Linked DNA regions of Homo sapiens: region 1 is linked to region 2. Evidence: fine-mapped expression QTL. A gene starts in region 2. The other region holds a variant in brackets. All regions are shown on one strand. Distances are between the middles of the regions. Region 1 has its middle 33 kb from the start of EPDR1. Region 2 holds the start of EPDR1 (ependymin related 1).

Region 1 (2,910 bases), 33 kb before region 2:
TAAATATACAATATGCCATTGGGAATGATATAACTGCAACCACAACACAACACATGCATATACTCAGATTACTTAAATCCTGAGTGTGTTGTATTCATTGCACATTATTTCTTTTTAAAAAAGTTATTATTATTATTTATTATTATACTTTAAGTTCTGGGGTACATGTGCAGAACGTGCAGGTTTGTTACATAGATATACACGTGCTGTGGTGGTTTGCTGCACCCATCAACCCATCATCTACATTAGATATTTCTCTTAATGCTATCCCTCCCCTAGCCCCCCACCCCCTGGCAGGCCCCAGTGTGTGATGTTCCCTTCCCTGTGTCCATGCGTTCTCATTGTTCAACTCCCACTTATGAGTGAGAACATGTGGTGGTTGGTTTTCTGTTCTTGTGTTAGTTTGCTGAGAATGATGGTTTCCAGCTTCATCCATGTCCCTACAAAGGACATAAACTCATTCTTTTTTATGGCTGCATAGTATTCCATGGTGTATATGTGCCACATTTTCTTTATCTAGTCTAACATTGATGGGTATTTGGGTTGGTTCCAAGTCTTTGATATTATTTCTAAATTATAGGATAGTTATAGCCCACTCCTTGAATGCTGAGACTACATTATATTTTCCAACTTTAAATATGAAATAAATATTGAAAATAAGTGTTCATTTTTGCTCTAATGAAAACAGTATAAATTTTAAAATTAGGATATCATTAAGGGAAGCATCTCTCTCCCTGAATAAACTATACAACAAATCATAGGCCCAGTATTTTTTCTACACATGCAGTTGAGCTAATAATTCTGCTTTAAAACAAATAAAAATATGTTCTAATCATTTATTATCTTAGCATCATTCCAAAAAGAGATGGTTGTTGATATCAGAATATCCATAAATAAAGTTAAATTTGTCTCTTAAAGAGGTGTTCACCTACAAAGCCTTCAAATATCACCAGTTATTCACAAGTCTTTGGCTGAGGAGGCTTACTCTGTCATTCAATATAAATTATTTTCACTCAACAAGAATGACAAGAATGGCATTCCTGCATTTGAGGTGCTTTCTGTGGATGTAGAAAGACAAGATCTACGTAAGTGGAAAAATGTAAAAACACCCCATATGCTGCAGGTAGATATATAGGCAAAGTGATTTAAAATAACAGAGGCAACATTGAGAAAATGAAGGCTTTTATTTGTTTGTTTGTTTGTTTGTTTGTTTG[C/TTTGC]TTATTTGAGACAGGGTCTCTCTCTGTTGCCCAGGTTGGAGTGCAGTGGTGCAATCTTGGCTCACTGCAATCTCCACCTCCTGGGGTCAAGCGATTCTCCCAGCTCAGCCTCCTGAGTAGCTGGGACTGCAGAGAAAGTGGATTTGGTAAAGGAAACCCAGCAAGAGGTGAGCGTTTTGTTTTCAAATTATGTCAAATTTAATTTGGCGGGAAATTATTAGTAGTTAATTGAAAAATTTCCCAAAGACCTAAAATTCTTGGCCTTCATTAAATATTTAAAGAATTTTAAAATGTGTCCCAATTTTAGGAATCTCAATTAGCAAAGCTTATGGTAAGAAACTCACCCTGATGACAGAGCAATTGGGGACAGAAAGGCTGGGCCTCCTTGACTCCACATGGCCCATGAGATAGGGGGAGTGAAGGCTCTGTCGTAGAGCTGGGCCTTCAGGGTGGCAGAGTTGAAGGCAGGTGTATGTCAAGCACACCCTGGGGCTTGCCTGGATCCTGGCAATTTGGAAGTGGCAAGGCTTCATTTGGAGAAGTAGAAGTAAATTGTTCCAGTGCAGCATAAAGTTCAGAGACATATGAGGTGGGGTATCCACAAAGTGGTACCCAGCCCTGGCTCAGACCACTATCAGTGATACCACCTCTGCAGATGAGTGAGGCACTGGGATACTGCACTTTATTAATAGGTACAAGTCCACACCTATTTAATAGCCCTCTTCGTTGTGACTCTGGTGGCCACTAGAAAGTTTTTACATAAGACTGCAGAGTAAGGAAACCTTCCTGCCACCAAGAGGTGACCCAGCCATTACTCCTCAAGCCCTTTGGGCATTTAGGGAAAGAAGAAACTGTGCCAAGGAGTGAGGCTGGGAAGACTCAGAGGCCTGATGAAAAAGGGTGTGTCCACCATGCTATGGGGTCTCCACTTTACTTGTAAGCAGTGAAGAACCACAGAGGCAGGGCGCCATCAGATCAGATGTGACCAGATGTCAAATCCTTCTGGACTTTTTACTCCTTTCTGTGAAGTGGCTTAATAACCAAAACAGGCCAACTGAAAAACAAAAGGGTACCCACTTTGCATGGGCCTCCATAAAATAAAAGGAGTTTCCTTCTCTCTCTGAGTAAGGTTGTGGCCTGCAATGGGCAAAGACAAAGTCCCAGGGCTAAGGAGAGATGTGCAGCTTGGAGAGGAGAGGATCATTCTGTGGTTGGGGAGACAGGAAGTGTGGCAAACATGGTCACAAAGGCGTTAGCAGGCTGGGCCACCTAGAATGCAGCTGCGAAACTCTTCCCTGTCTGTGAGGTTCAGATGCCTGCATGGCCAAACTTCACAATCCTCTGCAACCCCAGGAACCTGCATGGGCACTGGAGGGAGCAGGTGCTTAGTACTGGCTTGTGATTTGGCTGACCAAGTGAATGAATGAATGAATGAATGAACACAGGATGGCTTCTAGAGAAAAAAGACGAGGGCAAGGACAGAGGGTGTGAAGATCCTGCAAAGGCCAATGATGTTAAGAGCCCAGAGCTGGGTGGTGGCTGAGGGAGTGGAGAAGAGGCAGAAGTTTTAAGAGCTATTTTGATAGGACTCGGGATATTGACTGCCAGTGAGGACTGAGGGAGACAAATGGATCAAGAATGACTTGGAAGCTTCTGGCCTTGGCAAATGGACACTGGAGTTTAGGGAAGGTAAGAG
Region 2 (2,910 bases):
GTGCTGCTCTGTGCTGCATTTCATAATGCATTATTTTGCACCCTTGATATTGTTTGAAAGGGTCTGCCCTTTCCGTACTTTCTTCAAGTCGCCTAATACTTGAACAAATGCTTTTAGAATAAATGATATTATCAAGTTTGGTTTTGTTCTATAAACTAATGGTGCCCTTTTGCTATAGATCTTACAGTCCATTGGCGTTTCAAACCATGGAAATTCACTTTGCAACTCCTAATGATGCAAATGCCATAAAGAGAGGCCAGTGAGAGGAACACACTTAGGGGGAACGGCAGGGCTCTGGAAGGGAGACAGGTGGTGATCCCAAATTAGAAATCAGGTCTTAAAGGGGCCACAAGCGAGATGACATCTCAAAAAGAGGGTTTCCTTTGTCACAACAGATGTGAAAAGGTGAATGGTCAGACCAATACTTAAAAGAAACTTACAGCTTTGCCCCTGTAAGCGATACTGTGCAGCCATTAAAAATAGGAGGCAAGCTAATAAAATGGCAAATAAGAACATATAAGGGACAATGTTAAGTTAAAAAAAGATTCAGATAACGTATGGCTTTTGATCATAGTATGTAAAATTTGCTTTAAAATAAACAAAAAACTTAAAAGGAGTAGACCAAAATTTTAATGCTGTAACAATTTGCTAAGTTTGTGGGTGAAATTTTCTTTTTATCACTTTCCCATACCGTTTGTAATCTTGCCATATTCTTTTAAAATACAAAAAGTATTTCTTAGAAAATACATATTCTGCGTGCCTCTCTAGCAGATGTCTCTAGAAAGAAATGAGATAGCGCAGAAGACACGCCCTAGACTGCAGGGGGCTCCATGAGCCCAGAGCCTGACTCAGCAGCGTGAGAACAGGGGCGAACCTGGGCATGGGGCACTCTGCAGCTTGATCCCGCCCTGGATGGGTCCCTTCTTTACCTGCCACCGCCTCGCTGGGTGTTACTGAGTCCCCCGCCAGCAGGCCGCCCTCGGTGGGCGCAGCGCCCCTCCCAGTCCCGGACCATGCTATCCCCAAGAGACCCTCCTCGCGAAAGATCTCTCTGGGAGAAGGGAGGAGCTGCAAGGGGCCGGAAAGAGTTACAGGGCGCAGGCCTCTGCGACCTCGCCCTCCCCATGCCCGCGCGGCTCCCTACTCCCGCCCCGCGGGCCGATGACCTGTACCTCTTGCAGGGGATCAGCGCCTTCCTCTCGTCCAGCACCCGCACGCGCTGGTTGAGCCCGTCGTAGGAGAGCAGGGCGCGGCTGTTGCGCCCGCTACTTTGCTGGTACATAACCTGGCGCCCCTCCCACTGCTGCGGCGCCTGGCACGGGCGCGGGGCTCCCACCGCCCCCAGGCTGCACAGGCCGCACAGGGTCCAGGCCCAGAGGCCGCCCAGCAGCCAGGCACCCAGGGCGCCCGGGACGGTGCGGAGGGGAGCGCGTCCTGGCATCGCGGTCAGCCTTCCCCGGCCCGAGGGCAAGCCCAAGCCCAAGGGGGCGCTGAGGCGTCCGGGATCAGAGTGGCTCCCGCCGGCTCTTTCCGCACTGTGCCGGGAGTGTGGTCTGGACCAAAGTGCTTCCTGTCCCTTCGGTGGCCTCTGCCGCTTTTGAGATCCGGACGCGCGAGTCCCGGTAGCCGGGACCAGGGCCCGGGGAAGGCTCCAGTGAATCGCGCGGGAGCTATTTCTGCCTGGGCCACTGCCTGCTGCCACTGCCTGCTGCCACTGCCTTCTGCCGCTTCGGTTTTCACTGCTCACTGCTGCCAACAGGAAATGCAGTGGCAGTGGTGCCACTAGCATCCTGGGAGGCATCGTGTTTTAAGAGGGGGGATGGGGGGAGACTGTGCTGAGAAGTGTGTTTCTCCACTAACTTCAGTGTTCAACAGGTAATCACACAGGGAGGGGCAAGTTCAAGGTCAAGATAGGAAAAGCAGAGCTGCTGCGTTTGCTGTGCAAACGTTTGCCCCGCCTACATTGCCCCTCGACAAAATTGCAAACTTCTTCCTCCAAATTAAAAGTGGAAAGACGAGTCTTTTCCTGAAGAAATGATACTAGCTATTCATCATGGCCGCTCCTCAGCTCCCATTCCCAGTGAAGAGTCTAGGAGACTAGTAGACAGCCCCTTGCATTGGGCCTAGGACTCATGGACATAGCCTCAAGGTCACATTGCAGTGAGACTGCTCCTCCCATCGCCTGGCAATACCACCAGCCGAGTGGTTTGGGTGTCTGGGGGGTTTCGCTTCTTCAAGAATAAGGTTAATTGGGTTTATAGTTATGTAATGTTAGGATCTATAATATGGAATGAGCGAGGCTCACACACCTGTAGTCCCAGCTACTCCTGAGGCTGAAGTGGGAGGATCGCTTGAGCCCAGGAGTTAGAGGTTGCAGTGAGCTATGATCATGCCACTGCACTCCATCCAGCCTGGGTGACATGGCGAGACCCTGTCTCTAAAAATATAGTGATAAAGTATGAAATCAAGAAAAAAGAAAGGAACTAAAAAAATGTATAGCGTCTTTCCATTTGAACTGCATTTCAAGGATGATTAAGATTGAGCCAGGTGAAAGTGGGAGATAACATTCCTGAATGAAGGGCATAAGGACAAGAAAAGAATAATGCTGGGGTTCAAGGACAAGGTAGAGGAGTACTCTGAAGCCATAGCACTCATTTTAAGGAATTTGTCATTGATATTGAGGACTGTGGGAACTATCAATCAATGTAAAGCTAGGGAGGAGCATCATCAGGCATATGCTTTAGAAAGCCCACTTAGACAACAGAAAGGGTAGGGCCAGAGGGAAGGCAGGGAGAGGAGGAAGCTACTGTTATCATCCTGGAAAGAGATGATCCTGACTCAGCTAAGGCAGCGGGAGTGGTCATGGAAAGGGTGGAAGACAGGTGGGAGCTGTAGAGAAGCATTTCAACT

The links.
Region 1: its variant is fine-mapped to the expression of EPDR1 in prefrontal cortex (CommonMind, PIP 0.95).

Annotation. Positions count from the first base shown.
Region 1 is chr7:37,951,973-37,954,882 of GRCh38, reverse strand. No RefSeq gene overlaps it. Among named protein-coding and RNA genes, the nearest start is that of EPDR1, 33 kb to the right of the region's middle. The variant C/TTTGC (reference allele first, on the strand shown) is at 1,215.
Region 2 is chr7:37,919,471-37,922,380 of GRCh38, reverse strand. It overlaps EPDR1 (ependymin related 1), which reads right to left and starts at 1,741. Exons shown (of 3, transcript NM_017549.5): 1 at 1,173-1,741. The coding sequence starts at 1,441. RefSeq lists a silencer at 1,047-1,496.